Linked DNA regions of Homo sapiens. The protein of the gene in region 1 interacts with the protein of each later gene in a pairwise test. Each region holds a gene or a part of one and is shown in the gene's direction. Other genes may lie near its edges.

Region 1 (4,915 bases):
GTGGGGAGGAATGATTAAGTAATGGGGGCCGGGCTCGGTGGCTCACACCTGTAATCCCAGCACTTTAGGAGGCCGAGGCGGGCGGATCATCTGAGCTGAGGAGTTCCATACCAGCCCGGGCAACATGGGGAGACCCGGTCTCTACAAAAAATACAAAAATTAGCCAGGTACAGTAGTGTGCGCCTGTAGTCCCAGCTACTTGGGAGGTTGAGTCAGGAGAAACACAAGCCCAGGTGGCAGAGGTTTCAGTGAGCTGAGATCACACCATTGCACTCTAGCCTGGGCGATGGAGCAAGACTGTCTCAAAAAAAAAAAAAAAATTAAACATGTGGAATAGCTAGATATTATATTAATGGGCTATTATCAAGAAAACTTACCTGGAAAAGTTTTATTCTACCAGCGTCACATTGAGTTGATATTAATAATCTTACGATTTTATACCATATCATGCTTTATACAACTCTTTTTAATCTGTTATCTCATTTAATCCCCCAGTAGCATTTTGAAATAGATACTGTTCAGTTGAGGAAACCAAAGCTAAGGGATTAAGTGCTTTGTTGAAAAGCACCGCAGGCCTGGCGCGGTGGCTCGTGCCTGTAATCTCAGCACTTTGGTGGATCACCTGAGGTCAGGAGTTTGAGACCAGCCTGGCCAACATGGTGAAACCCTGTCTCTACTAAAAATAAAAAAATTAGCCGGGTGTGGTGGCGCATGTCTGCAATCCCAGCTACCTGGGAGGCGGAGGTTGCAGTGAGCCGAGATCGCGCCATTGCACTCTAGCCTGGGCAACAAGAGTGAAACTCTGTCTCAAAAAGAAAAGCACCAGCAAGTTTGTGGCAGGAGTAGAACCTGAATCCAGGTCTTCTGACTGATGTTTATCCCCGTACACCTTACCTAACTGCAGTTCTTTATTGTTCCCATTCCCAGTTTGGATCGCTATTGGTTTTTATTACATATTTAGTTCCCTTTCCCACCTAAGTTAGCTCTAGTCACTGCATTCCTGTTATAATACTTCGATTCTGTTCCAGAGAGAAGTGGAGATCCTGATGTTTCTCAGTGCCATTGTGATGATGAAGAACCGCAGATCCAGTAAGTTTAGTTCACTTCTCAGACTCAAGGTTAGATCTAATGCCCTTTGGAGGTGCTTTGCTTCATGTTAAGAGAGTGGCAATCATTTGGTAAATTTGTCCTACGTTTAATTCCAAGGCTGAATTTGAACTTGGACTTCTATCCCCTCCCTGTCTCCTATTTCAAAGTGCCCCATGAAGAGGGACAAAGAATGGGATATAGGAGTGCACAGCCCAGCCTGACCTGTGACATCTCTGTGTTTCAGTCACTGTGGAGCAACATATAGGCAACATTTTCATGTTTAGTAAAGTGGCCAACACAATTCTTTTCTTCCGCTTGGATATTCGCATGGGCCTACTTTACATCACACTCTGCATAGGTGAGGAGACTGCCTTTCTTTCTTTTTTTTTTTTTGTAAGACTGTGTTGATAGACTTGATTGTGGAAACCACAGTCCCAACAGTTGCAATCCCAAACATGTTTCTCCATACCCTTCTTCCATATCTCATACCTAATGAATTATATATGTAGCTCAGATGATAACAGTTTACAGAGACTGTTATTGTAGAGGTAGGGAATGTGTTGGTGGTCTACATATATCCACAAGTGTGTATTATTTGGGGGCTGAAATCCTTGGGTTGGTTTGGAAGTAAATTCCCTGTGTAAGGCTTTTTATGTTTCCTTCGACATCTTCTTTCTGTATTTAGTGTTCCTGATGACGTGCAAACCCCCCCTATATATGGGCCCTGAGTATATCAAGTACTTCAATGATAAAACCATTGATGTGAGTGCTCTTTCCCCTTTCTGTTTCTTGGGTCCCTTGTGGGTGATTTTGTAGTTGTGCTCTCCATTCACTAGGAGGAACAACAGTGCTTCAAAATGGATGTCACGGGCACTGTGGTTCATTATGAGAGCCGGGGGAGAGGGAACACCAGGATGAGGAATTAGATGCTAAAGTCTGAACCTTCCCAGGAGGCTATGTGGATCCAGCTGACTTTTCTTCCCTGTATTTGGCAGGAGGAACTAGAACGGGACAAGAGGGTCACTTGGATTGTGGAGTTCTTTGCCAATTGGTCTAATGACTGCCAATCATTTGCCCCTATCTATGCTGACCTCTCCCTTAAGTGAGTAGTGCAAAGGGAGGGATGGTGGAAATGGAGATGCTGTGCCTTCCCTCTCACTGTTTTTGGCTTTTCTTTTTCTTTTGGCCTTGATTTTCACACATGGTAACCAAAGGCATCTCCCTCTCCCCTCTTAAATATCTATACTTCCACTTTCCTTGATCCATTATTTTTTTTCAGCATATTAAATAATATATTCTTTTCAGATACAACTGTACAGGGCTAAATTTTGGGAAGGTGGATGTTGGACGCTATACTGATGTTAGTACGCGGTATGTAAAGACCTGGGCAGAGGGTCTGAGCAGGGAAATCACTTTGAGTGATACATACAGGGACATTTAGAGAACTTTCTGGGCCCTGCAGGTACAAAGTGAGCACATCACCCCTCACCAAGCAACTCCCTACCCTGATCCTGTTCCAAGGTGGCAAGGAGGCAATGCGGCGGCCACAGATTGACAAGAAAGGACGGGCTGTCTCATGGACCTTCTCTGAGGTACCTGAAAGGAAGGGCAGGTGCATGAAGGGTGCAGAACAGTAGGTGGGCTTTCAAGCCCTACCCGGGTTTGATTCACAGCTCTGCCACTTGCCCATTAGCTTTGAGGGTGTGGACTAGTTACTAGACCTCATGTTTTAATTCATTTAGCAAATATATATTATGTGCAGACCTGCTAGTACTGGGTAACAATCATTAGTTAAGATTTGGTCTCAGGCCAGGCACGGTGGCTCACGCCTGTAATCCCAGCACTTTGGGAGGCCGAGGCTGGCAGATCACCTGAGGTCAGGAGTTTGAGACCAGCCTGACCAACATGGAGAAACCCCGTGTCTACTAAAAATACAAAAATAGCCGAGTGTGGTGGCGCATGCCTATAATGCCAGCTATTTGGGAGGCTGAGGCAGGAGAATCGCTTGAACCCGGGAGGTGGAGGTTGCAGTGAGCTGAGATTGCACCATTGCGGTCCAGCCTGGGCAACAAGAGACTCCATCAGGAAAAAAAAAAAAAGATTCTGTCTCGAAGGCCACTGCACCTATTGTCTGTAGGTGTTAGGTTCCCTGTCAGTTAATTGGAGGTAATAACCCCTGGCTTACAGGGTTGTTTTGCAGATTACATTAAATAATTTAGGTATAATTCTTGGCACGGTGATTGGCACATAATGGGTATTTAACTATTAGTTGACTTTTCTGGGTACCTAAAAAAGAGGAAGGTTAGGGAAGATTTTTGTCCTTTGCTTACTCCTTCCTTTCCCAGACTTTGTGTAAAATACCTCTTACTTCCCAGGCTCTTTACTCTCCCTTCCAACCCAGATCCTGACGTGTGCATCTCTTTTGTGCAGGAGAATGTGATCCGAGAATTTAACTTAAATGAGCTATACCAGCGGGCCAAGAAACTATCAAAGGCTGGAGACAATATCCCTGAGGAGCAGCCTGTGGCTTCAACCCCCACCACAGTGTCAGATGGGGAAAACAAGAAGGATAAATAAGATCCTCACTTTGGCAGTGCTTCCTCTCCTGTCAATTCCAGGCTCTTTCCATAACCACAAGCCTGAGGCTGCAGCCTTTTATTTATGTTTTCCCTTTGGCTGTGACTGGGTGGGGCAGCATGCAGCTTCTGATTTTAAAGAGGCATCTAGGGAATTGTCAGGCACCCTACAGGAAGGCCTGCCATGCTGTGGCCAACTGTTTCACTGGAGCAAGAAAGAGATCTCATAGGACGGAGGGGGAAATGGTTTCCCTCCAAGCTTGGGTCAGTGTGTTAACTGCTTATCAGCTATTCAGACATCTCCATGGTTTCTCCATGAAACTCTGTGGTTTCATCATTCCTTCTTAGTTGACCTGCACAGCTTGGTTAGACCTAGATTTAACCCTAAGGTAAGATGCTGGGGTATAGAACGCTAAGAATTTTCCCCCAAGGACTCTTGCTTCCTTAAGCCCTTCTGGCTTCGTTTATGGTCTTCATTAAAAGTATAAGCCTAACTTTGTCGCTAGTCCTAAGGAGAAACCTTTAACCACAAAGTTTTTATCATTGAAGACAATATTGAACAACCCCCTATTTTGTGGGGATTGAGAAGGGGTGAATAGAGGCTTGAGACTTTCCTTTGTGTGGTAGGACTTGGAGGAGAAATCCCCTGGACTTTCACTAACCCTCTGACATACTCCCCACACCCAGTTGATGGCTTTCCGTAATAAAAAGATTGGGATTTCCTTTTGATTGCGCGTTTGTGTGTTTCTGTATTAGAAAAGCCTGACAACTGCAGAGGAATTGCCCATCTTAAGGGCAAAGGCCATCCTATTTGGTTTCACCAAATGCCGGGCATTGATCCCCAGGACTGGCAAGAGTTGGAGAAGTCTAGTTTCCATAAATCTAGAATAGCGGCCACATGTTGTTAGGTGGTGGGTTTACTCTGGGATTGGCCTGCGGTTGCCAGGGAGGAGAGTTTGGCGGCAGATGGTGGCACACAACATTTAGCGCCATGCAAAGGTACAGAAAAGATTGCGCGAAGCGAGGCTAGCAGTCGGACCTAGTCTCCGCCCCTTCCTGCTGTGTTCACCATCCCAGCGTCCCCTGTCCCCTCCACCCGAAGCGATGGGTGGTTCCGTCAGGCGCTTCCCGCACCTTCCCGCTCCCTGCTTGCAAAGTGGTTGTGCCCCAAGGTCCGCCTCCAGGCCACGTGGGTGCTGCGGGCCAAGCTTTCCCTTCCTTTGAGAGAGGTTTCCGCTGTAGGAGCAGAG
Region 2 (7,536 bases), on another chromosome or scaffold:
GCCTAGAATAATGCTTGGCACATTATGACTTTCAAAAAATGGTGAATAACAAAAGAGGATGATGGATTAGAGTTATCAGTGGAGTAGGCAATTGTCAAACTCTCTTTTCCTAGAGTTGGCTTGAGTGGAAATACCATTGATGCAAAGCAAGCATAAAATGGTAGAAATAGGTACAAACCATCAGTGACTGGCAGGAAAAGGAAAGAGGGATTACGGTAATGAAAAAAGAAAAGAGAGGCAAGGGATAGTTAAGCTCAAATATGAAATGTCTGGATACACATGATTATTACTCATGTTTAATTCCTAATCCAGACATTGAATTTTACATTATCTCCCTGTATCCTTTTATCAATTATAAAATGTGACAATTATTGGCTTTTTAGTCATATTATACTGTAGGAAATAATTGCTTTAAAATAACAATAACTTGGGAGGCTGAGGCAGCAGATCAGGAAGTCAGGAGTTTGAGACCAGTTTGGCCAATATAGTGAAACCCCGTCCCTACTAAAAATACAAAAAATTAGCTGGGTGTGGTGGTGTGTGCCTGTAATCCCAGCTACTCAGGAAGCTGAGGCAGGAGAATTGCATGAACCCTGGAGGCGGAGGTTGCAGTGAGCCAAGATTGTGCCATTAGACTCCAGCCCAGGCAACAATGCAAGACTCTGTCTCAAAAAATAAAAATAAATAAAATAAAAACAATAACTTAGCAAATAGGTTTTGGATGCTTAATAGCACAATGAAAGAAATATGCTTAAACTGTCAGGGAAATAATTTTCTTTTGGTATCTATATCTATATATGTTCTTTATGGTTAACTGCTTACTATTCTTTAAACATTACCACATTTAATAATCTATTATATAGCTACCATATTTGAATTCAATTATAACCTCCTTAAGCCTTTTGGTATTTGCTTCCTCACAGCCTTTTTATTTAATTAAGTTCATACTTTTACTTTATTACCAATGGATACAGTACTGGGCTTCTTTTTATATACATCATTGAGACTAGGGTAGCTCTGATACATGAGCAGGAAATGGAAGAGAGCAGGGGATTGAGGCAAATACTGTAGTTTTCTAGTGACAATCAGAAATCATTAGGGACTCAAGTGGCATTAGCAATGGCTGCTTGAAGCACTGTAAGGTTATCTTATCAGGCACAGGGGCTTGTATCTCATATGTTAAGGATTGCTGCTGCTTTCTCTAACCAGAGTTGTAAGGAAAACTAGGCACACATGAAAGAAAGACATTAAATCAATATTTTTTTCCTCCAAGACTGAGGATAATTCAGAGTGAGAAAGTAAAAATTAGTTCAGAGTAAGACTGTAAATAGCTGCTTGGTCATTAATTGAGCTGGGATAACAAACCCAGGTAAACCCTGCTGCAAAGTTAATGGGAAATAACTAAGTATATGCTGACACTATAAAGTATAATAGCAAGGCCCTTCTTTGAGTGTTTGCTTTCTAATTCACTGAAAAACTTTGTTCTCTAAAATCATATACTCTAGGAAAACTTGCTGCTTGAAATTACATCAGTAAGAATGAAACACCCTACTTTTGCTTGGGGGGATCTACATCATTTTCATACAAAGAAGCAGCCTCAATTAAGGGGCTCCTGAATACAACATTCCACATCTATGGTAACTTTGTAGTTTTCAAGAAACAGGATCCTGAGACTGTTCTACAGTCCCTATTGGATACATATAGTCCTGCTTTGAGTTTATCAAACACTGCTTCCTTTAAATTTCACCTAATCCCATCCTTCCCTAAAATTCTATAAATTTATCTTTTTTGTTTCCTGAGATACCTCTGGTGTTCAGTTTCCCTCATTGGAATGTGTTTTAGGTGGTTCTTGCAGTGCTATAAAGAAATACCTGAGCCTGAGTAATGCATAAGAAAATAGGTTTAATTGGCTCATGATTCTGCAGCCTGTACAGGAAACACAGTGCTGGCATATGCTTCTGGGTAGGCCTCAGGTAGCTTTTACTCATGGTGGAAGGCGAAGTGGGAGCAGGCACATCACATGGCCAGAGCAGGAGAGAGAGAGAAAGAGAGAGAGAGACTTTTAAAACACCAGATCACCTGTGAACTCAGAGCAAGAGCTCACTTATCACCAAGGCGATGGCCCAAGCCATTCTTGAGGGTTCTGTCCTCATGATCCAGAGCTCCCACCAGGCCCCACCTCCAACATTGAGGATTACAATTCAACATCACATCTGGGCAGGGACAAATACCCACTTTATATCAGAAGGCATCAGTAAGCTCAACTTTGTCAGACTATAGTTTGGCAGATTTGTCCTGTTGGTATTGGGCTAACTGGGTTAGGACAAAGAGGCATGAAAATCTAGTTAAGTTTGATGCCAGTGAAGTATAATAGTCTTTTGAGGCAATGAAAATGTATAAGAAAAGTAGGATTCAACAGCATGATGTTATGTGAACCAGAAATGCCACAAAAATGGCTCAGCAACATTTGACCCACCACTTTAATTGGGATCTCTGTGTGTGTGTGTGTGTGCGTGTGCGTGTGTGTGCATGTGTGTGTGTGTAAAATGCGCTTCCTCACCAGAAGGAATGATAGTTCCTAGTTGATTCTACCACCTAGGACAGGAAAAAACAAAACCTCTTGTTGCCAGAAATTAAAACATGCTTCAAAAAGCTAGTGCAGGCCAGGTGTGGTGGTTCACACCTGTAATCCCAGAACTTTGGGGGGCTGAGGTGGGAGGATTGTTTTAGGTGGGGAGTTCGAGAACTAGCCTGGGCAACAAAGTGAGACGCCCCCACCCACAATCTCTACAAGAAGAAAAAAAGACAAAAAAAAAAAAAAAGTAAAAACAGCTGGTGCAGACTTGAAAACAGAGGCAGGCTTACAAGTGCCTTTTGGAACAAATTGAGCATTTAGAAATTATACTTAATTGATGTAAGCTGACACTATAATGATAGTCCAAAATGGGACAAGATAAACCATACAAAGCAGTAGCTGTAAAACGAAGGACTATATGATATAATATTTTTAATTTTTAAAATTAATTTCACGTACATATATGAATATTGTTTAAATGTATGCATAAGTACATACACAGTAGAGAACTGAATAATTCTACTAGTGGAAACTGTATCAATTACAATAAGGGAAGATTAGCACCAGTGAGCACACTTACTACCAGGTAGAGGAAAAGTCCAACACTATTGCAAAATGAGATTAATCAAATGTCTGCCTCTACAAAGTCAACTCTGGTCTCCTGGGAGCCCCTCCCAATATTAATATGATGCTAATAAGGCATGCAAAATGTTCCAACAATGTTAACAGACCAGATATATCTATATGTATATTTAACAAGACAATGGTATACAACCAACCCTCTAAAAGGACAATTTTGGGGAAAGAACATGCTGCAGAAGGTGTGGGCTGCTGGGCAGCTCAGAATCTTGCATCCCTATTCCTGTAAGTGCTGAGGTATTTTCATATTATTTTAAACCAATCCACATATCTTGAACATCATTTATTTCACCAATGAATTATTTCTAATATCAATTATGATAGCTAATTAACATCCCCTAGTGAAAGTGGAGATTATAGTGGTTAAAATGCCTGTTGATATATCTAATTTTTTTTGTTTTTTGAGACGAAGTCTCGCTGTGTCGCCCAGGCTGGAGTGCAGGGGCGCAATCTCGGCTCACTGCAATCTCCCGGGTTCAAGTGATTCTCCCGCTTCGGCCTCCTGAGTAGCTGGGATTACCGGTGCGCGCCACCACGCCCGGCTAATTTTTTGTATTTTTAGTAAAGACGGGGTTTCGCCATATTGGCCAGGCTGGTCTCGAACTCCTGACCTTAGGTGATCCATCTGCCTCGACTTCCCAAAGTGCTGGGATTACAGGCGTGAGCCACCACGCCCGGCCGATACATCTGATTTTTTAAAGGCCGTTTTGTTGTGCGAAGATCATTAGTTAGAATGCCTGGCTGGGTAAATACAACCGATGACTGCTGACGATATGGAACAGGCACAAGACTTCTGAACGATATGTAGAATAAATTATAACTTATCTAGAACACAAGGTAACAGTGGAAGATAATGAGCCAGGTGGAAGTTACAAATGTTGCCGCAAGTAGTTTCTGTTACTTTACGAGTTCTGGGAGCTTCTCTAACAGCTTTGACAGGAGTGAATCCCCAAGGCTAAACCCAAATCCTTATTTGCCGCCTACTCACGCCTTTGTGAGGACTACGATTCCCAGACGGCAACGCTCCCTTCACTCAACTTCCTTAGCTGGCGGGGAGACGCAGTTTACAGAACTACCTCCCCAACCGAATTTCACACACCTGTCACCTAGGACGCGGCCGGGAAGGCCTCCCTTCGATCCGCGTTCTCCCCATTTTGGGGTGTAGCTTGGATTCCTGAGCCCAGTTTTAGTGCGTGGCCGACCGGGAGGCCGGCGAGGCGCTCTAGGCCGAGCGGCTTCGTCTCTATGACCACAAGGGGCGGTCCCCGGTGTCCTGCGCGGGGGCGCGGAGGGGGCGGGCGTCAGTTCCGCGGGGGGCTGTCGGGGAACCATGGCTGCCCCGAGAGGTGAGAACTGGGTCTGCTGGGAGTGGGGAGTCCGCGGGGGGCGGCGGCGGGCGAGCATCTGCGCTGGTCAGCCCCTGTCGGGCAGCGGAGCACCCTGGTTGCCCAGTGCCTCTGGGGCCTGGCTGAGGCGTCAGGAGTTTGCGTGGAGCCGCTCCCGGCAGTCAGGGCAGCCTGCCTTCCGCTGCGGCTGCAGTCTCCGCGGCTGACTCCGCGCTGGGCAGGTCGGAGTCAGAGACCGCACTGACCTCCACTAGCTGGGAGTGGGTGGGAACCGAATTCTGACAGGCCGGGGCTGCGGCGGACCCGGAGAGAGGCCAGGGCGTGGGTCCGGGGCTGGACCGCATTACCCAGCGAGGCAGGACAGTTCTTCACCCTGGCCCCGCGGCTCCGGTCTCCTCTGCGCCTCCTACCCTGTGGATGCTCAGAGGCTTAAAGGCAGGCTCCGGGCGCAGATCCCATGCGGCGGCTGGGCCATGCAACAACCACTAAAGACATCACTGGGGCGTCAAAACAGCACTGAAATCGTAACGAAAGGAAGATAACAGTCGTTAACAGTTCCCACCTGTATGCTGTGTGTAATTATAGAGAATGCTGTATGCTGCTATTTGGGGTGGAAGCTGAGATCCACCTCCCTCCTCCTGAGGGATGGCACATTCGGGTGAAGGCGTATTTGTTGACTAATTGACATTTAAGGAGGGCGAGTCTAATTGACTCCGCACCACTTTTTGCTGAGCAGTGTGTGTAAGTTGGGACCAGAGGTGGATTCTTTGACTGTGGTGCATTAACCAGGAGAAGTTGGGCAACACCCGGATTCTTGCTCCACCCTTCCTCCATAGAGCACTTGGCTTCACCCTTGAATAAATATTGAACGAATACATAAGGAATATCTTCTTGCGTGGGTTTCAAGTTATTTTCCCTGTTGCGGGGTCCATGTTTCTCATCAGGCCCTGCCCAGGGGCATTGTCTTTAGTTGCATATGCTTCTCTTATGTCTTCTTTCTGTTTCATTTCAAATAAGTCCAATCTTAAAAGCCTTTTTTTGTAGCAACACAGGAAATAAAAGAAAAAGAAATAGAATTGTTTTGATAACTAAAATGGAATGGGGATAGCAAAATTGATCCGAACGAAAACTTATAAATTACAGAAGTCAAATCATTACTTGAAATAGCTGCAACAATGTAAAGGTTTAGGCTTATTGCCAATACATATTTGTTGAGCCTTGATTGTAATCCTAACAAAACTACAGTTTCCATAGTTTCCGAATATCCACAAAGGATTTATCTGGGACTTACAGAATTTCTAAGTTCTTAAGTATTACAAATAATGTCCCCATAAACTATAGTAAAACATAACCGAAAAAAAACATTTTAAACTGTAAGTTTCTTTTGGGGGACATTTCCACACAAACACTATATGGGAGCTAATAGAATTTCGTGAGAAGCAGGGAACAATGCAGGGTTAAGATGTGGCTGCCAGTTGAGTTGTGGGCTAGCTTTATAGTTACTGGCATTGGGTGTGATTTGAATTATTTGCCCAATTTGAAGTGATTACATATGGACTTTTGCTGTTACCCTGAAATAATTGAAATTGCTAATAACTGAAGTTTTATACTGGAGAATTTGTGAATGGAGTGAACAAGAAATAGTTTGGTCTGATGTTAAACTGCCAGAGAAAATCGTACTTAAAAACATTTAGTATTTAAAAGTTGAAATACGTTTAAAAACTGGTATTCCATGTCAAAGCCCAATCTGTTTTGCACATACCTAAACTTATTTGATTACCCTTCCACTTAGATCAGTAGTTATTTTCAAGAATATAATATATATTCCCATATACTCACTATGCAAAAAGGTATTTTTTCAAGTTAATGACAATATTATAAGTCAGAATATGTTTGTAGGCTATCAATATTTGGTTTAGTGTTTAAATATTCACTTTGTTGTTTTTGGAATCAGGAACCTGTACAGTAGCTAAAATAAAGTACTTTTTAGTTTATCAGCCCTAACTTCTCTTATTTATGAAAGTGTTGATAATCTAGGACATGAGATGGCAAACTTTTCCTGTGAAGGGCTGGATAGTCTCTTGTCATAACTACTCAGATCTGCTGTTGTAGGGAAAAAAAAGTAGCCTGGATAATTTAGAAACAAATGAGCATGGCTATGTTCTAATAAAACTATTCATGGACACTAGAATTTGAATTTCCTGCAATTTTCACATATCACAAGATGTTATTACATTTTTTATCAACCATTTAAAAATGTAAAACAATCGTGAGTTCACAGGCCTCATGTAAACTGGCGACATATATAGTTTGTTCACCCTTTATCTAGAAGATGGGAAGTGCCTTCTCTTCTACTGATTAAAGGTTATTGCTGTATATTTTTGAAGTCATATTTCTTCCCTTGTGTAGGAAAGTTTTAGAACAAAGGAAGTATTATAGTGATCTCCTTCACTTCCTTTTATATAAACACTGATTTTTTGGCTCCTCAGATCTTTTGGAAAGAAAGTTTAAGCAGTTAAAAACTATTTCTTCTGTTTTACTTTTTATTTAAAACCTGATATGGTTTTTAAAAATTGCCTACAATTCAGAAAATATTCTTTAATGCACTCGGGAAAATATTTATATTGAAGAACCTGTTTCCTTGTAAGATCCAACCATACTGTATCTAAAGATAATCTGTTTGAAACTCCTGTTTTATTTCCCTATGAAAACTATCTTTGAATTGTGATTAGGCTCCCAAAGCAGTGAACAAAATCTTACTTAGCATATAATGTAGTTAAAGTAGCAGGCTGGAGTCACCTGGTGTCCTTCTGGTTCTTAACCTGGAGTTGTCAAAGTATGGCTCTGGAAAGCCTAAAATATTTGTTTCTGGCCCTTTGCAGAAAAATTTGCTGATCCCTGTTTAACCTTGAGCCTAAAGATTTGAATGGAGGTGAAGGGGAACTGGGGGACAATAGGTGGGAGGTGGGTGAGGAA
Region 3 (7,034 bases), on another chromosome or scaffold:
GTTAGTGATGGTAAGAGCATAGATGGTAACACTTTGTTAACTAGGATCTATTATCCTCCCAGTAATGTCTCATAATAAAAAGTAATTTATTTTTCCATTGAGCATTCTCTATCAATAATTGCTTTTTTGTTTTTTGGGTGTTTTGTTGTTTTTTTTTTTTGAGATGGAGTCTCACCCTGTCCCCTAGGCTGGAGTGCAGTGGCGTGATCTCGGCTGACTGCAGCCTCCGTCTCCCAGGTTCAAGTGATTCTCATGCCTCAGCTTCCCGAATAGCTGGGAATACAGGCACTGGCCACCACGCCTGGCTAATTTTTTTTTGTATTTTTAGTAGAGACGGAGTTTTGCCATGTTGGCCAGACTGGTCTTGAGCTCCTGGCCTCAAGCCATCTGCCTGCCTTAGCCTCCCAAAGTGCTGTGATTATAGGTGTGAGCCACCGCGCCCGGCCAATAATTGTTTATTGTTTTAAATGGGAGTTTATTCTAAGATCAGTAATAATGCTATTACAATGTGTTAGCTTGAATCATATGAAATTGCCATGTTGAGACTGAGAAAAAATCAAAATCAGCAGTCTTATATATTATATAGTTAAACCACTCTCAACTCTTACTGGTTTCTTTTGGTATTTACCTTTATACTTATTTCATTTTTAATGTTTATACTGCTATTTCTTAGCTCTTCACTTTTGGATATTCTCTGTGGACTTCTATTTTGGAAGTTGAAGACTTAACTGTCTCACATAACTATCCTTCCATTTCCCACTCATACTTGACAGTTAGGTCGGTATTCAGGATTTATATGACTGACAGTGTACCTGTTATTCACAGTTGAGCCACGTAGGGTGCTATTACTGTGTTTTCTTCTTGAACAACTTTTGTTGCTCCTGAATTAAATAATTGCCTCTTTTGTTTGTTTGGTTTTCATTTGCTGAGTTTTCTTTGTATCAGTCACTAATTCATTCAAACTCTATGACAAAACTGATTATCTTTGAATATTCTCAGGTAGTCACTCACTTTCATATCTTTTCCCCAGGAGATGGTCCTGCTGGAGCCCCCTCTCTCCTACTCCAGTCTGGAATTGTTTGCTCCCTGGACTACTGCATAGCCATCATCCTGGGACTTCCCTTTGTCATCATCTTGGGAATTCCCTTTGCCTTCCTCCTGTGTTAGGTCTTCTATTTCCTGGACCCTGTGTCTTCCTTATTCTTGAGTAGCTTCCTGAGAAAGGGTACATACAAAATCTGAAATTCCTTCCTGAATTCAGAAGTTACATGTCTGGAAATGCCTTCATTTTACCTTCACTCTTGAATGGTAGTTTAGCTTGGTGTTAAAATCTGGATTGAAAATTAATGTGACTGTTTTGAAGACATTGTTCCATTAGCTTCCAGTGTCACTATTGAGAAGTCCAATGTCATTTTAATCCTCATTCCCTTTTTCTTCCCACTCTGAAAGATTTTAGGATCTTCAGTTTATCCCTGGTGTTCCTGACATTTCATGATGTACCTTGGAATAGATATTTTTCTTTACTTTTGCTTGTGGGGTAGATTGTATTTTCCAAAAAGGCTGTATATGTATGTGTGTGCATACTCCCCCCATCTCACCCAATATGCTATTCTTTGTGCCTCCATCAAGCAGTGGGGTCTTTGTTTCCTCCTCTTGAACCTGTGCAGACAGGAATTCTCCCCCGAACGTTTTGGATCTTGAGCATTGTGTTTTAAGAGCACAGCTGCAAGATCAAGAACATGCACCTGGCACTGCTAGGTGCCCAGCGCCATCAGGCCAGCATCTCCCTTCCCATTTTCCTTGTGACCACTGTTTAGGCATTGAGATTAAGCACTGTAGATGTGTATGTGTTCATTGAGAGAGGGGATTAAGTTTTTTTACTTTTAAATGAAATCAACAATGAAAATATCAATTGACATCAGAGAGAGTTTCTTTTAAGCAGTGAAATGAACCAACATGACGGCTGTCAGGTGCATTTTTTAAAAATCCACCTTAGGAAATGACAAAAAAAGAAATGACCAAAAAGAAACTAACTTGAGCTTCATGATTAAATATGTCATTATTAAATGTGACAAATATATTGTTTGCAAGAATTTCTGTGATGAGAAGATGGAAGCAAAAGGAGCTGCATAAATCACAGCTTCACAGAACATTGTCAGTATTTTTGTGTTTATCTCATGGATACATATTATTATTATTATTTTGAGATGGAGTCTCACTCTGTCACCTAGGCTGGAGTACAGTGGTGCAATCTCGGCTCACCACAACCTCTGCTTCCCGGGTTCAAGCAATTCTCCTGCCTCAGCCTCCCGAGTAGCTGGGACTACAGGCGTGCGCCACCATGTCCAGCTAATTTTTGTATTTCTGGTGGAGACGGGGTTTCACTATGTTGGTCAGGCTGGTCTCGAAATCCTGACCTCGTGATCTGCCTACCTCAGCCTCCCAAAGTGCTGGGATTGCAGGCATGAGCCACCGCATCTGGCCTTGTTTGTTTGTTTGTTTGTTTGTTTGTTTGTTTGTTTGTTTGTGACAGGGTCTCACTCTTTCACCCAGGCTGGAGTGCAGTGGCGTGATCTCGGCTCACTTCGACCTCTGCCTCCCAGGTTCAAGCGATTCTCCTGCCTCAGCCTCCCCAGTTGCTGGGATTACAGGTGCCCGCCACCATGCCTGGCTAATTTGGATACATATTTTTAAAACATCCTTTGTTTACTCTTTAAAAATTTTAAAATTAAAAACCCTTTTTTTTCTATTTATAGCTGCTTTATCATTCATTTGGCTTTTCCATGACACCACCCAAGTGGCTGGATATTACAAGAGAACTTCAGATTCATGACCAAAAATCCGAAGTAGACACTCAGCACTGCCCGGCAAAGCTACCATTGAATCTTAATAAGATCTTTTTGCCTATCACTATTTCATAACTTCTCTCCACTCCTTAAACTTATCAGCAACCCACCCCTCCTACTCAGATAAGCTGACCTCATAGTTCATTGAGGGTTTAGGAGATATCAGACAGAAACCACTCATCTTCCCCCCAACCAAATGTAGAAATCTGCCTTCCTTAGACCCATGTTTTCTGTCTCCTGTCGGAGGCAAGCTCCCCTTTCTACTGTGTTCCTCCTCACATCTTCTATACCTCATGCCCCCTCATATCTCACAGCTTTAGCATTTTTGCCCTCTCTCTTGCATCATCAGCAACTCTCCAGGGGGCTATCCATGTCAGCATACACATATGCCGTGACGTTGCCCATCTTTAAAATCAGAATAAGCTTCAGCAAACAACTTTTCCCTGACCCTCCTCTATCCCTTTCTATTTACCTACATGGTTAAGTCTCTCAAAAGAGAAGTTTACGTGCCTTCCCTACCTCCTCTATAGTACGTACCACCCTCTGAAATTCTGTTGTTTAATAATTTTTGTGTGACTTACCCCTAATAGAAGGTCAGCTCCAGGAAGGCAAGGACCTCATCTGTCCTGTTTACCACTCTGTCCCCTAGGACAGCAGGTGGCACAAGTGTCTACTCAGTACATGGGCAAAAGAGGCACAACTGACCTGGTAAAATAGCTTTTGATTTTTAAAAATTTCTAACAAGAGAATCCATGTTTTTTAATTACTCACCATTTTTTGCTACACTTAAGAATTGAAACAATTATGAAGAATATATTAATGATCAAATTTTGCCCTATGTTACATTTCATTCTTTCATAAGTATGACTTAATATTGGCAGTCTTGGGCCGGGCATGGTGGCTTATGCCTGTAATCCCAGCACTTTGGGAGGTCAAGGCGGGTGGATCATGAGGTCAGGAGTTCAAGACCAGCCTGGCCAAGATGGTGAAACCCCATCTTACTAAAAATACAACAAATTAGCCGGGTGTGGTGGCGGGTGCCTGTAATCCCAGTTACTCGGGAGGCTGAGACAGAGAATTGCTTGAACCTGGGAGGTGGAGGTTGCAGTGAGCCAAGATTGTGCCATTGCACTCCAGCCTGGGTGACAGAGCGAGACTCTGTCTCAAAAAAAAATATATATATATATAATATATATAAATAATATATATATAATATATAATATGTATAATATATATATTATATTATATTATATATTATACATATTATATATTATATATTATATATATTATACATATTATATATTATATATAATATATATATTATACATATTACATATATAATATATATATTATATATATAATATATATATTATACATATTACATGTATAATATATATATTATATATATAATATATATATATATTTGCAGTCTTGCACCTGGACTCTGGCATCAGACTGCTTGGAGTTGAATTCCAGCTCTTTCACTTTTTGCTATGTGACCTCCAGCAGGTTTCCTAACCTCTCTCTTTCTTCATTTGTAATGTGGTTAATAATAGTTCCTACCTCATGTGTTTGTTTTGTGTTCCAAATGAGATAATATGTAAAACACGAAACTCAGTACTCGTCTTGGGAGTAAACTCAATGAAAAATAATAGTAATTATTATAGCCTCCTCCAGTTTATAATATTTGACTCTGACTTGGTCTCTATAATATTTTTGTTCAAAATACTATATCTCCTAGGGTATATGGGCTATCAATATGATGATTCAGCTGTTCTTGGTTTTGTGGGGGGCGGGGGTGTGTTTGTTTTTAAGAGAGAGAGTCTTGTTCTGTCGCCCAGGCTGCAGTGCAGTGGTGTGATCTCCAACTCACTGCAGCCTTAACCTCCAGGGCTCAAACAATCCTCCCACCTCAACCTCCCAAGTAGCTGCGACCACAGGCACACACCAGCATGCCAGGCTAATTTTTTTTCTTTTTTTTTTTTTTTTTTTGTAGAGACAGGGTCTCACTATGTTGCCCAGGCTGGTCTCAAACTCCTGGGCTCAAGTGACCCTACCAGCACCTCCCAAAGTGCTAGGATTACAGGCAGGAGCCACCATGCCCAGCCAATAAATCATTTTGATCACTTGATAAAATATTTTTATTTCAAGCCAAGTCCTGTTCTTTGTTTATTTGGTTTTCTCAGAGGTGAGGTTCTTTCTTCATGTTATTCCACATTAAGTTTTCTTATTTCTGGAAATGGAGCTTTAAAAACACCCAATATATCATCAACAGATTTTTTTTTCTTTTGAAACAGCTATAAGACAATGTTCTTTTCATCTACTAGCTAGCTGGGAGGGTAAATATATGTAGCAGTACGAAGTATATTCTGAGGACCACATAAAAAATACAGACAGGCTCTGTAGAAGTTCAGGCTAGGGAGAGTCAGGTACTTCTAACCCTAAGGGATTCCTACAGCTTTTCTGCATGTTAAATAGTCTGTTTTAGCTTATTCTCTTATTACTTGTCTTGGTTTTTACTTTGAAAGTTTGCTTAATAATCATGGGAATATTTTAGATTTTAAAATACAAAATATACAAGCTAAACTTGAGAGCAGTTTTTAGTTGTAGAAACTGTTTCTTGAAGTAATTGACTTAGCGTTTGCTCTGCCTCTTTCTTTTCTTACCTAGGTAGGTAGTGGGGACTCCTTCAATTATCTGAGCAATTCAAATCTCAGAATGTAGTGTTGGGTAAATTGAGGGTTCTAAAAGAATGCCAGATGGTTTGAAAGGAACTGTGAGCATTCCAACTAGTGCAGTCCTTTGAAAGCCAGCTGGCAGAGCCTCCTGTGCTTTGGAGGTAGGAACCAGACACTTTGTTCCATGCCAGCTGGCCCAAGAATAGCTGGCCAGTGGCCTTGCTTTTGGCTGGCCACTCTTGGGAAAGCTGGCCTGGGCCCTCCATGTGCCCTAAGGATAGTCTGATACCAGAGAGTTGCACTGGCCCTCCATAGTACCCCAGGGAGTTGGAGAAAGCCTGCAGTGGCAAGGGAAAGGAAACTGCTATTTAGATAATGTTACAAGTGAACCTCGTGTTACAAATTTGCTCTGGAAATTTAATGTAATTTGAATTTTTATGGATTCACTACTGTTAGGTGTATTAAAGTTGCAATGAACTGTAGTGAATGTTTTTATATTGTAAGTAACTTCCAGGTTACCTGCTTTTAAAGTTCCTGTTTTTATTTGTCAACTTTTCTTAAAGTGAGGTTTGCCCGTTCCTTTTGTTGTCATCTTCTAAAGTTTTGATCATTTGAATTAGGAAAATTTTTCCATCTTGTTGTAAAGCTTGCTCCTGTGTAAACCATAGACTTTTTTTTTTTTTTGAGACAGAGACTTGCTCTGTCACCCAGGCTGGAGTGCAGTGGTGCTCTTTCTGCTCACCGCAACCTCTGCCTCCTGGGTTCAAGCGATTCTTCTGCCTCAGCCTCCCAAGTAGCTAGGATTACAGGCATGCGCCACCACACTCAGCTAATTTTTGTATTTTTAGTAGAGACAGGGTTTCACCATGTTGGCCAGGCTGGTCTTGACCTCAGGTGTTCTACCCGCCTCAGCCTCCTAGAGTGCGGGGATTACAAATGTGAGCCACCACACCTAGCCATAAACCATAGATTCTATAGAAGGTTAATTATGTATGTAGTCTTAGCTTGTCTCTCATTTTGATGGTACTTATGTTTTCCCGATTAGACAGGTGCTTGTATCAGATACAGTTCTTCACTTCCTTTAGCAGATTTAATATCATAATTGTTTAATTGACAGCAAAATAAGTGCAAATATCATACTGTAAGAATAATGAGCATTCAGTTCATTTGATGACAGTGTTTATTGAATTCTCAAAATTAATAGTTTCACTGCTGTCTATCAGTATGCTTTATGTTGCCTTAATTTTTTTTTCAAATGTGCAGATTGAATGGTGCTGCAGTATCTGTTAAGTTTATTAAGTTCATCTTGGCAAACCAAAAAAAAATTATAGCTACCTGTATCTCTTTATTGTTCCTTCCCAAATCTGAGCATGTGAAATTATGCTCAGTGATATAAATTTGAAATAGAACCTAAATATTATATCTAAATAGTCTCTTTATCTTGGACTGAATGAAAAAAGTTGACAGATAATGAAACGTCAAATTATGAGTTAATGTAGTTTGTGGGAAA
Region 4 (7,066 bases), on another chromosome or scaffold:
GCGAGACTCTGTCACAAAAAAAATAGAGAAAGGACAGTATAAAATACTCATCTGTTTAAAGTGTGCCAAAAATATTTGGGCAATTATAATTTAATTTTTAATATTTCTAATACTTATTAATTTCCAAGCAATTAAAGAGAAACACATGCTTTATTTCCAGACTATCTAAATGAATCATATAAACTAGCTATGTATAAGGATTATTAGTCTCTGAGCATATGTTTTAAAGCACAGATTCAAAGATTAAAATACAAGTATGTTAGAAGTAAAAAATTTCAATGGAAGTTTACCTTTAGGGAAACACTAAAATAGCTCTGGTGTTGTGTGACCCTTAGGTAGGTCTACATCATCACACCTTGAGGGAGAATCTGTCAAGGATTCAAATAACTGTAAGAATCATTTTTTCTCTGTAAAACTAGGGAATACAGGCATTTCCAATGAGAATTAAAATAATTTTTATCTGTATGGGTAGTTTATTAAAGTTGGATTGTTTTGGTCAGAAAGTTGATAAAAGAGTTAAAATACTATTGATGTTTTCATCTATATTAGCACTGATATATAAGGATATTACAAAAATAATGCTAAAATGATCTTTTCTTTATTTTTCATTTGGTTTTCATTTTTTGTGTAAGTGTATATATACACCCTTAGTGAGTTAAGAAAAATTTGAAATTCCATATGAATCATTAGGGAGGCAGTGATTCCATCAAGGAGGAAGTAGATTTTTTGAAGACATCATCAAGCTGCAATTTAACGTTCCTACTAGACACCAAATAGAAACACAGCAGCATTGTTTTTTCATGTAAAAAAAATGTATAAGGTGGTTTTTCTGTCATATGTCATGCCATATATATTATACAACTGAAATTTTGGAAGAGTAGTAGAATCAGAGGAATATTCCACATCAGTTACTTCACAGGCAGCAACCAAAGAAATATTTTATATAAACAAAGAGAGACGAGAGAGAGACTGTTTTAAAAAATACAATAAAAAATACAACAGTTCAGTGTAATGTTTGCAAATTACAATTTATACAACGGCCTTTTTGTAGTTTTGCAGCTTCCACAAATAGTATATCTCACAAAAGCTGAAGTAATCCATTAACACAATACTTACAATGTTTAGACCTTAGACCAAACTTTAAATTCCTTAACCCTGGCCTACAGGCATTATAAGAAATGCCCCCTAATGATCTCTGTTACTTTATCAATCATCCCTCTCCCTTACTACATTCTTGTCATCCTGGCCCCTTTGCTGTTCATGCGACAATCATTCTTGCTCTTGCCTGGTAACGTTTGAACTACGTCCTAGGATGTTTCCCTCCAGACATTTGTATAGTTTACTTTAACTTCATGTACATCTCTATTCAAATATCACCTATTTAGAGAGGCTGTCCCTGCCCACTCTACCTAAAATAGTTATCATCATTTATGCTTCATCTTCTTATCCACATTTTCTTCCCAGCAATTTTCACTGGCTATTTGCAAACACATATTTGTACTGTTTGTGTCCTCTAGTTCTCCCTGATTATTATGTAAGCTCCATGAGGATGGGTATAAGGTTTATTTTCACCCATAAAAGGGGCAATTGAAAAAATAAATTACTAAATATTGATTTTAATTTTATGAATTCTTACATTTTAGTGGGAGACTGACACTATTAACCTGTTCCAGGAGTTTATCCTTAGATAGTGCTTCATATTTTTTCTTGGTATGTTACTAATAAATCCATGGGCAAATAAGTATTCTAAAAGCTGTAAATATTATGTTGAGTTTTCCTTATTACGATAAATATTTAGCCATATTGCATAGGGTGTGTTCTTCTAAAAGCTCATGTTTTAACATGTCTTATCAATTACAAAAATGACTTTAAAATAATAAATATATCTTTAATTAAATTATTTAAAACTTTAAGTCAATCAAATCCCAAGAGACTTTGTAATTTCATGCACAAGATAAACTGTATTTTTTTGCTTAATTGAGCTAAGCATTTGGTGAGCTCAGTCAATTATAAATGTTAATTATAAACATCGATTTAAAAATCAGACTTGGGTCTGATATTTTGAAGTTCAAAGCAACATTTCTTGCTTCTTCAAATGCAACTGAATTCTGGAATATTAATGTTCAATTCAAGTAATTGAATAATCCAAATTTAAATTATTAAAAGGTTGGTATTATAGAGATATACACATATATATTATTCTTAGATATAAAAATATTGAAAAGTGAGGCTACCTCTATATTATAATGTTTCTTCTGTACTTTACTATTTTAGCAAAATCAGAATCAATGTCAGTTTATATTTTAAGGTAATTATTTTAAAAGACACATAACTAATTTAAAAGAGCTTTTTATAGCTAAGCTATTCATATAAATAATATTGAGTTATAAAATACAGACATCAAAAGGTTGTATTGCATAGCTAACAGCAAGAACTAATTATTAACACCTATTTGAAATACAGTACCTTAACTATCGTGAGAACTTTTATTGATATTTTTAAATCAAATGTTTCTTATAACAAAATCAATATAGCATTTTAAATAGATAATTCGACCAATGCCTGGCAATCGTCTGAATACATGAGACCAAGAAAGATTGAGGATAATCAGAAACTGATTCATATGTTGTTCTGTTGATTCCACCTGTAAACTTGTTTATTCAACGTTAATTCCTTGAAGTATTAATGTGTAATTAATACTCCAGAATTAATTCTATAATCAATGACTATTACATGACAAAGACAAAGATAAACAGTATTACGTTAACACTATTTGGCTTCTAGTGTCTTTTATCTTTTAATATATGCAAGCCAACATACAGAAACAAATCAACTTATAATATTTAATCCATGTTTTAGGGAAAAAAATCTTTCACCATTTCCTAGAAAGGAAGATTGGACTCAAACCAAAATCTAGGAACTTTACCTGGATGTATCTTATAGTTATTATTGATTATTGACTGCTGTGTGCATCCATTTTCTCACTCGTAGATGGAAGTGTCTGTTGCATTTTTCCTACGCTTTGGGTGTGTGGGAGCCAAAAACTTTATTCTTTTAGTTCACAAGTCTTCAGACCAAGAGTAAGTACAACAAAGGATAGGACTTTCCTTTATCTGCTCCTGGATCTGATTTAGCTTACAAAAATATCCTGTGTAAGAAGCCTGAACCTGATGCTATATTGATATGAGACTATTGTTTGCATTGGAAGGAAAAAGTGTATATTTCATGTCAGAGGAAACAAAATTTATTCCCAACGGAAAGGATGTGGCTATTTTTAAAAAATTAGCAAATACTAGGTACATTTCTCATTAAAAGTTGATGTGTATGGTCCACACCCTCCCCTCCATCCTCACTCCACCTTGAAGTAAAACAGGCTTGTGCCTACCTTGGTATTGAAAATTATATAATATAACTTCTAATACTAGGTCATAAAAGGCCATTTACTTTCTGTCTTGCTTGCTAGAAATCCCACTTTTGGAGCATTAAGCCACCCTTTCATGCTAATGCCAACAATGCACCTAGAGGCCATAAGTAGGCATTCTGGTAGACAGTCCTAGAGTACCTTAACCTTTTCAAGGCTTCTTATAAACTTTGTGTTTATAAGCATGAATTAGCTTTATCCTTAGGGCAAGTTTAGCCTTACTTAAAACAGTGTAGCTTTCCTTGGATCTTGTCTGAATGTTGCAAGTGTTCAATGAGGATTCTACTTTCTGGCTGTTCCAGTCTTGAAAGTTTCCAAATCCTACGTGAAGTCTTGGGAAACTTCAATTCACAATTCCTCCATATATGCAAAACCTACACAAATGACATATGAGGTTCTTTTCTGTTATAATGAAGAAATTAAGTTTTGAGCTTTGTAGCCAAAAAGAGACCTTTCCATGAACTAATACATCTCTCCCTCTAAGTGCCAGTCTTTCAAAATACTGGCTAGACGTTATCATTTCAAACATTATTATTATTGCAAATAGGGGAACTAGTTTTAATATGCTATCTTGTTGACCTAGTAAATATTTCCAGGTATAATTGATTTACAATAAGAGACAATACAGCGTAATAGTGAAAAACAGGCGCTCTGGAGCCGGACTGGATTTAAATCTTTGCTCTAACCCTTACTAGGGAGGTGAATTTGGCCATATTACTTAACCTCTCTGTGCCTCAGTGTTTTGTCTCTTGAAAAGGGGTGGGGGAGGGGAGATTATCACAGTATCTACCTCACTGGGTGTTTCAGGAAAGTTAAATTCATAAATATAAATAAAATGCTTAGCACAGCAACTGGTAATTAGTACTGGGAGTTTGCTGTTATTATTATGCTATTGTTGTTATAATTAATGATCTGAAGAATAACCAGAGCTCTATAGGTTTATCATGATTACTAATGAAGATGCCACTAAAAAAAAGAATTCAGGAGCATCTTGGCGGTGGCAGCGAGTTTGAAGATGCGACGATCAACGTTGAAGATCACCGCTCGCAACCCCGGGCCTGGCGCCGGGTAGGGGCGCGGCGCTCGATTTCCTTCCCTGCCTCCGCCGTCCCCCTGGTGCGCATGCTCAGCTCAGCTCGGCCCTCGCCTTTGATTTATTTTTTTTCTGGGCGGCCGCTGCGACCCGGGACTGACTTCGGGATGGGAAGTGGAGCCCCCGGAGCTGCTACCGTGGCGGCGGCGCTGTGAGGAGCAGCCAGGGGGAGGCAGCTGCGGCTCGCCGGTGAGTATCCGGGAAGCGCCACCATGGGGCTCCGTAAGAAGAGCACCAAGAACCCCCCCGTTCTCAGCCAGGAATTCATCCTGCAGAATCATGCGGACATCGTCTCCTGCGTGGGGATGTTCTTCCTGCTGGGGCTTGTGTTCGAGGGAACAGCAGAAGCATCCATCGTGTTTCTCACTCTTCAGCACAGTGTTGCTGTCCCTGCAGCAGAGGAACAAGCCACGGGCTCAAAGTCCCTCTATTATTATGGTGTCAAAGATTTGGCCACGGTTTTCTTCTACATGCTGGTGGCAATCATTATTCATGCCACAATTCAGGAATATGTGTTGGATAAAATTAACAAGAGAATGCAGTTCACCAAAGCGAAACAAAACAAGTTTAACGAGTCTGGTCAGTTTAGTGTGTTCTACTTTTTTTCTTGTATTTGGGGCACATTCATTTTAATCTCTGAAAACTGCCTGTCAGACCCAACTCTTATATGGAAGGCTCGTCCCCATAGCATGATGACATTTCAAATGAAGTTTTTCTACATATCCCAGTTGGCTTACTGGTTTCATGCTTTTCCTGAACTCTACTTCCAGAAAACCAAAAAACAAGACATCCCTCGTCAACTTGTCTACATTGGTCTTCACCTCTTCCACATTACTGGAGCTTATCTCTTGTACTTGAATCATTTGGGACTTCTTCTTTTGGTACTGCATTATTTTGTTGAATTACTTTCCCACATGTGCGGCCTGTTTTACTTTAGTGATGAAAAGTACCAGAAAGGCATATCTCTGTGGGCCATTGTGTTTATCTTGGGTAGACTTGTGACTTTAATTGTTTCCGTACTCACTGTTGGGTTTCACCTGGCTGGATCGCAGAATCGGAATCCTGATGCCCTTACTGGAAATGTAAATGTGTTGGCAGCTAAAATTGCTGTTCTGTCGTCCAGTTGCACGATCCAAGCCTACGTAACATGGAACTTAATTACTCTCTGGCTTCAGAGGTGGGTAGAAGATTCTAATATTCAGGCCTCATGTATGAAAAAGAAACGGTCGAGATCTTCTAAAAAAAGAACAGAAAACGGAGTGGGAGTGGAAACTTCAAATAGAGTAGACTGTCCGCCAAAGAGGAAAGAGAAATCTTCATAATCTTTGCAAGCGCATTGATTAATGTCTGCAAAGGAATCTGCTCTTTGAGGTTTCTTTCTGCACTAGAGATTTTTCTGTTTTTGAAAATAGTTCGTGCTCTTCGGTTTTTGTTATTGAACTGTTTCATGTATTTTTTAAAGACATTTGAGGGGAGGAGGATTATTATGAATGGGAAAAAAAGATTTTGGTTGAGACTAAATTACTCATCGTCAAAATAATGTCAAAATAGTTTTGGGGATCACCACTATATTTTGTTTTGATTTTTAACCTTTCAACATTTTCCTAATGATTTGCAGAGATAACTGCACAATTTTGCATATCAATGATACTGGTTCTTACTCCCACCAGTGTTTCATAATACTAACAAGATGGTCTCTCCTAGCAAGATTATGTGTTTAATGCTTGCTTTGGGGTAAAATAAAAGTACGAAAAAGGTGGAAGTCAAATCAGTATTCTGTAATTGTTAGAATTTATTTTTTAAGAACTTACAACTCAGAAAAGATTGCTAGACTCACCAAAATAATAAATGTTCTTTATTTTACAGGTAGTGATTATTAGTGCTTCATCCCCATTTAAAAAAACACAGTACTAATGGGTAACACATATGGAGGTTTGCTGCCATATATATTGCATCAAAATATCATTAATTAATATAAAAATATTAAAATCATTCCTGTCCATTCCACTTGTAAATGGGAATTCATGAAATTAAATATTACTTTAAAAAGGACATTGAACTTAGTCTTTTTTAAAAATGTTTATTAAAAATGATTCCTAATGAGGCCTTGTAAGATCAGTAACCACAGCATCTTAGAAAAATATTGTTTGTATACCAGGTTGAAAAATAATACTTGGCATGTGTATAAAAAAAGTCAGCTAATTACATTTGGAAAGCATGTTATGCATCAACCTTCAATAAGTTGAAAATCAGATAGTCACATGAAAGGCTTTTGAAAAATAATGTTGTGATTATTTGTCTTCATCTTTAATTGGGGAACATTTATCTGTATAAGACATATTTTGAAGATTATTTACATACACATGTATGTATAATCTGTATCTTTGCAGAAGCCAATGGAAACAATGGGAATTAGTGGGTGAGTATTTATACGTATTGCCTCTCAATCCTTATTTCAGTTTTATTTCCATAATGTGTTTATATAATTTTTCAGTAAGACAGTACTTTACAAATATGCTAGGGGAAGGCCATATATTTCCTATTCCGTTATA

The links.
Region 2: the proteins of TMX2 (region 1) and SLC35A1 interact in binary tests that used the Homo sapiens proteins (3 or more experiments, as listed by UniProt).
Region 3: the proteins of TMX2 (region 1) and RNF24 interact in binary tests that used the Homo sapiens proteins (3 or more experiments, as listed by UniProt).
Region 4: the proteins of TMX2 (region 1) and TRAM1L1 interact in binary tests that used the Homo sapiens proteins (3 or more experiments, as listed by UniProt).

Annotation. Positions count from the first base shown.
Region 1 is NC_000011.10:57,736,580-57,741,494, forward strand, and holds the end of TMX2 (thioredoxin-related transmembrane protein 2 isoform 1 precursor), read left to right. Parts: intron 1-1,028; coding exon 1,029-1,089; intron 1,090-1,206; exon of another isoform or gene 1,207-1,333; coding exon 1,334-1,447; intron 1,448-1,774; coding exon 1,775-1,851; intron 1,852-2,084; coding exon 2,085-2,191; intron 2,192-2,394; coding exon 2,395-2,460; intron 2,461-2,530; coding exon of another isoform or gene 2,531-2,551; coding exon 2,552-2,681; intron 2,682-3,519; coding exon 3,520-3,666; 3' UTR 3,667-4,394; downstream 4,395-4,915.
Region 2 is NC_000006.12:87,468,460-87,475,995, forward strand, and holds the start of SLC35A1 (CMP-sialic acid transporter), read left to right. Parts: upstream 1-4,514; 5' UTR 4,515-4,544; coding exon 4,545-4,560; intron 4,561-7,536. UniProt on the Homo sapiens protein: Transports CMP-sialic acid from the cytosol into the Golgi apparatus, functioning as an antiporter that exchanges CMP-sialic acid for CMP. Binds both CMP-sialic acid and free CMP, but has higher affinity for free CMP.
Region 3 is NC_000020.11:4,005,543-4,012,576, reverse strand, and holds part of RNF24 (RING finger protein 24), read left to right. Parts: intron 1-7,034. UniProt on the Homo sapiens protein: May play a role in TRPCs intracellular trafficking.
Region 4 is NC_000004.12:117,083,054-117,090,119, reverse strand, and holds TRAM1L1 (translocating chain-associated membrane protein 1-like 1), read left to right. Parts: upstream 1-4,543; 5' UTR 4,544-4,726; coding exon 4,727-5,836; 3' UTR 5,837-6,566; downstream 6,567-7,066. UniProt on the Homo sapiens protein: Stimulatory or required for the translocation of secretory proteins across the ER membrane.